2 separate regions of the Homo sapiens genome follow, and region 2 is linked to region 1. A link means that fine-mapping ties the variant in region 1 to the expression of a gene that starts in the linked region. Tissue or cell type: monocytes. Region 1 holds a variant in brackets; the other region holds the start of a gene. All regions are shown on one strand. Distances are from middle to middle.

Region 1 (5,000 bases):
AGTGAGCCGAGATTGGGCTACTGCACTCCAGCCCAGGCAACAGAGTGAGAGTCTGTCTCAAAACAACAACAAAAAACAACTCGGGACACTGCTCAGTCACCTTCTCTTCTCACTGTTGGTGGCACAGAAACACAGTAAGATGGGGACAGATATTTTCTTAAATTCTTGACATGCAGACCCTTAGCAAATACAGACAGCAATTTTCTCTTCTCACAGTCAGCACCTCCCTACTCCCTCCCTCATACCTTTGTCACCTGGCACATTTATACAGACTGGTTCCACAAAACACTTTTTAAATGTGCATTTCTTTAATTTTTAAAAATATACACAGGAAAAGCCATGTGTTTTACATAGGAATACACACATTAACAAAGCATTTCTTATAGTTTTCCAAAACTCTATTATATCAGTCCGAAATTTATAAATTAAATATATCAGAATTCTTAAAGTTAAAATGAATTCCCTGAAACTACTGGATATGCTACTTTTTCCAAAATCAAATGAACAGAGGATATGGATGTGGTTTGTGTTAAATAAGGTTTATTGTTAGCTTTATTGCCTATAGTCTATAAGATGCAACTTTACTGTGCCTTTGCAAACAGGATACATTTCTTAAAAAATTGATCAAAATTTTCCATACATATAGCTCTATATGATAGATTACAGTGCAACACTATTCTCGTTACATAATTATAGAAATACTATAGAACCCAAGAGCACGGGGTAAGCAAAATAAATACAATCCTGAGCCATCTGAACAAGATGATTTGATGAATCCTTTAGTGTAAGTTTAGAAAACACAGAGAAGGAAAAAAATACATGCATACTGCAGTCATGAGCAAAATACATCAAACACCTGTTCCTTGCTAGGTGCAGGTGGGGGCAATGGTGAACTTCAGACACATGCACACTCACTCACACTCCCATTTTCTTCTGCTTCCCTCCCAGCCCCAACACATTCATTCCCGCCCCTTCCCAAAAAAAAGATCAGGCACTAAATCCTAGTGAACCCCACAACTGCCTTGCTGGAGAAGGTTAAGTGACTGCTAAAGTAAGAGTGTATGTAGGTCCTCACCCATAACATGAAACAAAGCATGTGCTGTAAGCCAATTCCAGCTGCTTTTGCCTCTTTGGAAGTAAATGAAGCATATGCCCACTACAGCTTGAAACTGCAGTGGAAATGTCTTGAAAACAAAATTTTGTTTCTCTTGCTATGTCTTGAAGTAAAATCAACAGTGGAAAATTCATCCTAAAACTGCCTCATCTGCTATTAAAATACATTTGTCATTCTATTTTTGGTATCTATTCAATTATAGTTCATTAAGAACGGTTCATGAAGCTTGTACCTGCTTATGGTAAACATCAGTGTACCACACAAAACCTGCCACACCTAGACAGGCTTATGAAACACCAAATCTTCTATGTGTTCCTTGCTAACATTCCCTCAAGACCACAGCATTCTAGTGTTACCAGAGATAAAGTACGTATAGTTAAGTGATGAAAGAAAGGTATTTGGTTTGTGTCGTCACCTTATACATCCTAGTGATGAAACTAACCAAACTATGCCTCCATGCCTTCCCTGAAAATAACCTGAGTCGGCTGACGAAACAGACTGAGCAGCGTGGCTCTCAGTCCACTTTATCAGAGGTTGAGCTGGAAAACCAGAGGGCTAATGTAGTCTACCAGCAGCTTGTGCGGATAACCAAGAGTTCTTGGCTGTTGCAGTATCCACTGTCCCAAAGGCTAAGCCACTGAGGTGGAAATCAATCGCAGCATAAAGAAGACTGAACTTAAGCTGCATAACCTGCGAGACTACCTGGAGAGGACAAAAGAGGATCAGGATCCTCATTTCCCACAAAATGTGGTGTGGGTTTTAGTGTCTCTATGCATTAGCTGCTACAGAGAAGTTAACATTTACTTCATAGCTTTCTTATTTTCAATTAAATGCTCACACTCAAAAAATACACACCCTATGAATATGAGGTGGCTCTTTTCTTCAAATTTTTTAAAATAAAGAGGCACCAATACCCGTTCATTTATGTATTAGAAGTCTCGTATAATCACCAATAAAACAGAAATAGCATCTGTGATCACACAACGGAGAAAAAAGATCAAGAGACAACCTTAGCCACTGTAAAACTGTACTTGAACACTCAGATGCTCTGGCTAAGTCAGAATCTAAAGATTTGCTAATAAGGTTTTATTGGTTTAGCATAGTCCCATGGCCTTTGTCTATAACTGATATGTGGAAACGGTTCCCAAGGAAATTTAAGAAACCATTCTGAAATTCTGCCTTTGATGTACATTATAATTAAATGTGACTGTTATAAACGTTGCCTCTATCATATTATCTTTTGTAAAGTGGAGGCAAAGAGAGACAAAAAGCATCCTCCTGGACTGCTGACATGCAGAAAGCATCAGCGATGATAGGGTTGTGACAGCATTTATGGAGTTTCTAGGGCAGGGGGGACAGAATGCTGTATCTCAGCATCTTTGGTTAAGGTCTGGCCTCTTTAAATCCACCTCTCCCTCACATTTAGTCTCTCATGAATTTTAAGTCCATGCACTTGAAGACGGTCACAAGATATAATTTCCATATAATATGTCAGATTCATAAGAGTTTCAGATTTTTGGTCCTCACCCTGCCCAGTGGGAGTACACGGGCCTTACACAGAAAGCTGCAGAGTCCAATGCTTCAGTTAAAGCATGTTCTTTTCAAAGTTTTCTTGAGCTGCACAAAAAACCGTCAACAGTTTTTTGGCTCCCAGCACTGGGAGAGGGATAAAGCTGAGCTCTGGCTTTTGTCCTTTAAAGTGGCCCAAGCCGACTGTATGAAGAGTCTGGTCATCAAACACATTTACCACCAGCCTTCAGAGTACATCTGTCTCATTCAAACCTTACAGGAAGCCTAAACGTTGTGTAGGTGTTTGGGTGGAAAGATAAGAATAAGCTAAACTTGGCCTAAGGAGAAAAAGGGTAAAAAAAAAAAAAAAAAAAAA[GAAA/A]GAAAGAAAAATACAACACTCTAGGTTTTAATTCAAAGGAAAAATATATATATAATAAACTGGTTTACACCCTTGGTCAGACTGTTGCCTGGAATTCTCTACCTTCTCTTTCACAGTCCAAAGAGTTTGTCTCTGTTCTCTTCCTTCACTGCTTTAGCAAAGAGAGGGGGAACTTCAAAGAGGATTCCAACAGTGAAGCAGAATCATGGGGCAAAAGTCGCTATGGGGCCAGACTGAGGTTGGACCACACAAGCACTCCAAGCTGGGCCAATCCCAACCGCTGGTGAAGCCGCACAGCACGGAGTAGCCATCCACATAGGCCTGGCCACATGGTACTCAAGCAGAGGTTTTCCACAGTACTCTTTCTCCTCACAAACAAACCCCAGCTCTCCCAGGTAAACATTTTAGAAAAAACATCCAGGCTGGTGTACTACTGTAAAACGCTGCCAGTTTCTAATTAACTTAGCACCAAATCTGTGATTCCCCCTCCCTCAAACCAAGTCCATCTGTAGTTTAAAATGTGAAGTGCCACATTTCTCTTTGCTTCTGTGTTTTCATTTTCTTTGAAAGTATTCCTATTGATGTTCACTCCATGTCAGAAGAAATAAAGTTGCAAAATATTTGGTGATTTCCGTGTAACGTTCTTCTTATACTGAAGTAACTTCATGGGTTTCGGTCAGAATTATGTCCACAGAAGTCTTTTCCATGTAGTTCGTCATACAGAAAGACTCTTACACATGGCTATTTTTGGACAGTGCATAAATGAAGATACCTCACAAGAGAAAAGATCATTATCTGTATCCATCAGAATAATATACAGATTCACAGTCAATGAGATGATACGCTTTGCAGAAGAGAGGCATCAAACATTATACTATTCAAACACAAAAACAGCAATAAACGTTCTGCACTACAGAAAATTTGCTAGCTTCTAACTTTAAGGATTTAAAGTGATGGGTCTGGTAACTGCATTTTAGAACTGGAACATGCTGCTTTCCTTCCAGATACACAATGTTTGATGCTGGTGCACATATACAATACACACATGCACAACACTGTGTCTGCAATGATATAATAGGGCTACCAAGACCAAGAGAGTAAATATCAACTTAAGAACACTTCTAACTTTAGAATTTCATTTTATTAAACATACTTTTAAAACAAGCACCTCTTGGCAATAAAAGCAAAAACAAAAAACAAACAAACAAAAACCCAACCAAACAATAGTACTCCTTCCACTCTATGCTAACGGAAGACTTCTCACACCAGCCAGTTAAACAATGAAATTCTTAAACACGCAGCCTGCTGGGGCTGCATGCAGAGCTAAAATGCAGGTGTGCTGACTTCTTGGAGCTGGAGCAGAGGAAAACATCAAAAAGCATATCTGGAATCTATCACAGCTTTCTTTCTTAAGCAAATAAAAATGCAAATTAGTTTCATAACCACAATTCAATTTATCAAACTTTTTCTGAAGAATTTTCATTTAATTATGTATACATAACAGGAAATAAAACTTTTTCACAAACACTCTCAAGGCTTACGATTATCAAGAAAATGACAAAAGTAAAAGCAGGAGGAATATTAAACACATGGCGGGGAGGTCAATTTCCGTTTCTGCTCTTAAAAAGTAAAAAAATCACCATATAATTAAGTACAAAAACCTGCATTGAATGACAACTGCTGGTGTATTTACTTGATCAGAAATGAAGACCAAGAATATAATAAAGCCCTATGATAATATTCACCGGGAGCACTCCCCTCAGTGTGTGTACACTAACAGGTTGGCAAAGTTTCTGGAGCATTAGCTTATAGAAACACAGGAGTCCTTGGTTAGCTGCATTATATGGAACGTTCTCTTCTGAAATGCACCCACGATTCAGTTTCACTTACAAATTGCAAACTAAAGTTATCTCTTCAGAAAAATATCTGTTTGGCATCTCCTGGACTTTGTTCCATTGGACAGTAGGGACATTTTAATCTAAAGACAAAGAAGAAAAC
Region 2 (5,721 bases), 55 kb after region 1:
TTTATGTATGATCAGTTTCCATCACAAACTATCCTAACAGCTCATTTAGTATATAGCTGTCTGCTCACAACTTCAGAGATGAAAAAAAAATTTTAACATAAAACATTCATCCTCAGAAACTGAACCAATCCCTTTAGGTTGGCTAAAGGATGCTTCTGCAACAGTCATTCACCAGTATGATGCAATGATGTGTTCTATATAGTCCTCAAAAATTCTGTTTTATTCATACCAGATTCTTGCAAGTATTACCACAAGTAATCTCAGAGAATGAGGTCCAAAGTCCTGACAGAGGGGTCCCAATTAGAGCCTCTCAGGTTATCAGAATCATTTGCCCAGACAGGTATATTCAGAAGCCCAAAAATCTTCCCTTTAAACTTGAAAATAGAGTTCCAAACTCAGTTTTCAGTAAAATACCTTTGAGAAGGGCATATTTAAGTTTCAATGTAATATCTACCACATCACCTGCCGAGAACTTTAATTTAGAAATCATCTGTTTTCAAAAATACCATAGCCCAGATGCCAAAGCATGATGTTTATCTTTACACAAAAAAACACCAAAAGAAGAAAGATTTTATTTGGGAAACTAGACCTGGCACTTGTGGTATTTATTTTCTTTCATGTTTTATAACTACCTTTAGTCACTTAATCCTATTATTGAAGAATTAAAGGAAATCAAAGAGATACCAATATAAGACTAGCAATTTGGTAGACAAGAGGGAAAAAATTAGGAGGCTGAAAAGGGAACACACAAACTCACCAACTCAGACTGTTTTTAACAGCATAGCATACTGTGTGGCCAATACCCCTCAAACCATAAATTCTGAGAAAAGTTCCCTAGTACCCAGTGGAGAGTCAAAAACAAATTCCTGCCTCAGCAATTTCTCACCATCATTTTATCCATCTGAGCCTGGCCCTAAATTTTCTAAAACAAAGCTCACAATCACATCCCCCTTCAACTTACATCCTCTCTCATGGAAGAAAGGTACTTTCTGTTCCATCATTTTCCTCTCAAACTCTGCCTATGACCTGGTCCCTAAAAACGAAATGTTCCTTCCACCTCTCCAAGTCTAGGCCCTTCATTCTCTTCCTCCACTGGTTCCTTGGCAGGGCCGGGAGCACAGAGGGAATACCTCCCACCGCTGTACTGGATTTCCCACACCTCGGTTCACATCGAATTTTTCTTCTTAACCCCCAGTAATCTGGCTTGTCTTAGCAATTCTATGAAACTGCAAGCACAGAGGGTTACTGACTCCCAATAGCCAAATAAAAGCTGACCAATCTCTCCTTTTCTAAGTCCTCGCCCTTTTCGATTTCTGCTGGCTCTATCTAGCCTTGGCTCTCCACTCGCCAAGGAAAATTCAAGACTGTGGTTAGACTCTAGTCTTTCTTCTGTGCAATCTAAGTGATCCCCTCCACTGTCCTCCTAGAAATGACATCAGAAAACAATCTTAGACCTATGCATCTCCAGCCACCAGTAAATAGGAAAGCCCTCGATTCTATCTTCATTAAGCCCTTCAACCTTACTTCACATGTCCAAAACCAAATTCAAAGTCTTCCCAGGATTCCTGTCCCATTCCACCTTCACTTCCCTGTATCTACCAACTATATCATCATCGCCACGTCAGTCAAATTTCCCTTCACAGGCAGCCACCAAGGTCTGCTCGTTTTTCCATACTAGTATTGCAACTCCTATGAGAATTAATACGGTTTTTCCATATTAAAATCTCATCCACTATGACTGCAGGTTTGCTTCCTTCCTGGAGTTCAAAAATGACTGCAGTGTCCAGAATGAGAAGCTGCTGTAAGACTCCTTTCCCATGGACCAGCACCCATCCTCAACTGAAACGCAGTCTGGGAAAGTGTGAAAAAATGAAGGAGAAGGAGAGAGACACTCAGCTAACGCCACTGCCCTCATCTCACCTGCCACAAATAATCTGCATCTTCCCCCAGCTACCAAACCGTCCTTCACATAAATTTCTGTTCAGCCCACAAGCTGAAAAGCCCCCTCAGCCTCTTATTAAAGACCCATTAAATAAGTCCTTCACTTCTTGATCAAAAGGAATCATCGCTGTGACTTCTAAAGTGTAAGAAAACCAAACCTTTAAAAGTACCTGTCCTCAGGGCTTGGGGCAGTAAAAAAAAAAACAATCTAGGTGAAACACCTTCTATAGGAAAATTTATTTTTTTTGAACGAACTTAACCAGGCAAAGCAAGTAACTAGCAACATGTGCACAATTTACTTGGGCAAATGTCGCCCGTTCCTCCTCGGTGTCATCAGAAGGTACACTGGGAGAACAGAAGGGTTGAATTGAGCTGGTTTCCAAGGAACCATGTCAGAGCCGCTGCGGAGTTAAGAGCTGCGTCCACACAGCAGCCAAATCATGAAGTTGCAGGAGCGGCTGTTGTTAACCCACAGCTAAGAATAACGCTCGACTTTCCAAAATAAAACGAAGAAACGAAGTCCCCTGGCCAAGGATTCGGGGCGGCACAGAGGGGAAACGGAGCTTCCTGCACTGCCCTCATCACTCAGAACCTGGGGTCCCAGGCGATTCAGTCACCGCCCACAGAACAGCGCCGCGGGCACCACGTGAGACTCCCGGGGCCGGCTGGGAGCGGGGGACGAGGGGCGCCCACTCGGGGGTCGGCAGTTTGCAGGTGCGATGGGCGGCCCCCTCACCCACGTTTATCCGGACTGGAGCCCGCCGCTCCCGGCTGGGTTTCCGGGTGGTTCGCGCTCCTTCTGAATTGGCAGCGAGGTCGCGGCAGGTTCGAGGTAAATCGGACGAAGAGGGGAAAAAGTCTCAGGGGTCTGGGGGCCTCCGCGCCTCAGGGGAGGCAAGGGCCGGGCCAGAGGCGCGAGGGTGGGTGAGGGATTCCCGCCGCGGGGCCGGGACCGGGGCTCGGGCAGTGGGCCATGCCCCGCGCGCCCACGCGGGCCGCCCTACCGTGGCTCTGCAGGATCTCGTGCTTGAGGCCGCCGGTGTAGTCGATGAGCTCCTCCAGGCCGCGCTCGCACAGCTGCCCGTAGCCTGAGAACTTGTGCAGCACCTTCTCCAGCTCGCGCTCCACCGTCACGCACTGATCCATGCCGGAGGCGGCGGCGCTCGGCTCCTCGGCGCCCAGGTGTCCGCAGCCGTTCGGCCCGGGCCCCACCGAGGCCGCGTCCTGCTCCTCGTTCCCCAAGCGGGCGGCGCGGGAGGCTGAGGCGGCCGAGGCGGCGGGCGCACTAGCCGCGGCGCCGGGGGAGCCCCGCGCAGCCGGAGCCCGCCTGCCCCATGGCGCCCTAGCCCCCCGGCGAGTCGCCGCTGCTCCCGTTCGCTCGCTGCACTCGGCTCCGCGTCCCCAGGCCCCGCTCGCGACGTTCGGGTGCCTGCGACGGCGCGGCCGATTGTTTTTGTTTTCACGGGAACCGACCGATGACCTGGTTCTCCCGGGCGGCACCAAGCGCCGCCGACTGGGGGGAGGGGGATGGCCACCCGGGCGAGGAAAGGAGGCGGCGCGGGCCGTACCAAGTACACCCTCGGGGTGGGGGGTGCGACCCGGCGAGAACGGGCGGAGGAACGCGACGGGCGCCCACACGCGCCGCCACTCTAATGGTGTGGGCCGTACCACACGGAAGGCGTGCGAGGGAGAGGGCGAGGGTGGAGCGAGGCCCCAATTGGCCTGAGGAGCTAAATAGGGAACTTTGGAGACAGCCCCAGCGCTCGGAGAGCGCAACAACTACGCGCTCCATAAACAAGGAGGCGGAAACCGGCCCTCACCACTCCGCCCAGAAGCGGGGAACCCCAACCAATGGGCGCGGGGAGTGGTAAGAAGCCAATCCCTGGCCGAGGCGTAAGCCTTCAGCCAATCCGGGCTGAGGGGCCAAACCAACGGGCTCGCTGTTGGAGGGGGTGACTTGGAGAGCGTACCGAGAAACGAGTAGTTTATGGAAAGCCTTGGGGGAAAACTAGACAAAAATACAAAAGGCTGTTTTCCATAGGACGTCGCCCTGATCCCAATTTATTTCGTCTCCTCATCGATCTTAAGGGAAAGGGGTACCGTCATTCCGAACTTTTGGGCGACGGATCCATCTCCCGGGAATGAAAAACCAAGCCAGGCCGCCCGGGGGCTGGTTCTGCGTCGGCGGGGGGTCCCTAATGGGAATTAAAGGCGGGGGTGATTGGGCCCGGGTGAGGGGAGCCGCTTGCTGCTCGCGAAAGGCCCGCGCCGGCTGTCAGCGCTGCCCCGGGCTTGCGACACCCAGGAGGTCATGTCCCCATCCCCCGCGGACCGTGGCCCTTTGGCCCCTTGGCCTGGAACCTCTCCTGACGGTGGCCTCGCCCCAGAGCCATGTGCCGGGCAGCTTAGCCGGGTGGAAAGAACACGCGCTGGAGAGCCGGGCAGCCTGGCCCTTGCTCCCTAGGAAGCCTTATGCTATCGGATCGGATCGGCTTTACCCCCTCGGGTAAATCCTTCCCATCGCTTGCTATGGCGTCTGCAGCCTTGGCCTAGACCTCCTTGATCAGCATCGGCTGCACTACCTTTGCATTTCTTCAGGAGCCCAGCTAGTTCGTGCCTCAGGGCCTCTGCACTTGCCCTTTCCTTGGCCCAGAAAACTCTTCCTCCTACCTTTTTCATCCTGAAGTTCTTCTCAGCTCACTTGTCCCCTTACAGGGTCCTCCCCTGGCTGACCACACTAATGTACTTCCTCCCCACCGTTAATACCATAACACATTTTATTATTTCCACACCACTTAAACTCTGAAATGATCTGATGTTTTATTTTTCTGTCTGCACCACTTACATAAAACCATGACGGCAGGCCCCCTGCTTGTCTAAATTTTTTGCCTAGAACAGCCCCTGGCGTGAGGTGGTAGGCAATTCTTTTTCTTAAATTAACGTGATAACGTTTTTGAGCCTTAACTTCCGTATAACTGAGAAATAATTGGAATTAATACTTAACTAAATTGTTAGATAAAGGAGAATATATGTAAATACCCATAATAGGCTCATGATAACCACATGATAAAGGTGGTAGTAGTCATTATTAGGGCAGCCCCAACTGGTATTATTTCAGATCTCCCTTCTCCCCACCCCATTTTTCTTCCCTCTTGGCAGATGTCTCTGATTCTTCACTGAGATTAAAAAAAAAAAAAAAATCTAGCTCCAGCAACTTCTATCACTCTTCTCCAAGTATTGCTGTGTACCACCCATTTTGTGAACATTCTCATGTACCCAAAGGACCAGGAGTCCCTTCTCCCTTTCCAAGACAGCCGTTGGGGCCTGCGGGCTGCCTCTCACCCCTGTCCAGATCTTCCCCCTCTTTCTCTGCAGTAGGTTCTTCCTTTCTACTTTCAGCCCAAATGGGTTTGACCTACCTGGGGGAGGAAACTTAATTTAACCCTCCTCAAGCACTCATTTCTTTCACTGCCAAACTGCCTAGACAAATCTATGTTTATTCCTCCCTTTTCTTCAAGGATCTCCTTGATAAGCTCAGTCACCCTTTTCTCAGTCTTTTTTTTTTCTTCTCCTTCAAAGGGTTGTTATAGTATGAAATATTCCATTTAAGGCACTCAACAAAATGCCTGGCACAAGGTAAGAGCCATGATAATCCACTGATCACAAATAATCAATGACTCCTCATTACCTACAGCTTCAGATCCTCTCTCAAGGACATGGTCTGCCCTGTGTAGCAACACAGCACAAACCCCTATCCAGGCATGAAGCACTTTCCCACCC

Direction of the effects. Alleles are on the strand shown, and positions count from the first base shown. SD is a standard deviation of normalised expression in the study named.
In carriers of allele GAAA in region 1, the expression in monocytes of the gene that starts at base 3,464 in region 2 tends to be higher than with A alone (moderate effect, 0.47 SD a copy in Fairfax 2014).

The links. PIP is the estimated chance that this variant, and not a neighbour inherited with it, causes the effect. A credible set is the group of variants that fine-mapping cannot tell apart.
Region 2: it holds the start of RMND5A, and the variant in region 1 is the best candidate, but not a certain one, in a credible set for the expression of RMND5A in monocytes (Fairfax 2014, PIP 0.78).

Annotation. Positions count from the first base shown.
Region 1 is chr2:86,773,328-86,778,327 of GRCh38, reverse strand. RMND5A (required for meiotic nuclear division 5 homolog A) reads right to left here. Exons shown (of 9, transcript NM_022780.4): 9 at 287-4,980. The coding sequence ends at 4,917. Among named protein-coding and RNA genes, the nearest start is that of CD8A, 15 kb to the left of the region's middle. The variant GAAA/A (reference allele first, on the strand shown) is at 3,000.
Region 2 is chr2:86,718,034-86,723,754 of GRCh38, reverse strand. RMND5A (required for meiotic nuclear division 5 homolog A) reads right to left here and starts at 3,464. Exons shown (of 9, transcript NM_022780.4): 1 at 2,946-3,464. The coding sequence starts at 3,087. RNF103-CHMP3 (RNF103-CHMP3 readthrough) reads left to right here and starts at 2,633. Exons shown (of 8, transcript NM_001198954.1): 1 at 2,633-2,773. RefSeq lists silencers at 2,848-2,907, 3,386-3,544, 3,428-3,617 and an enhancer at 3,738-4,271.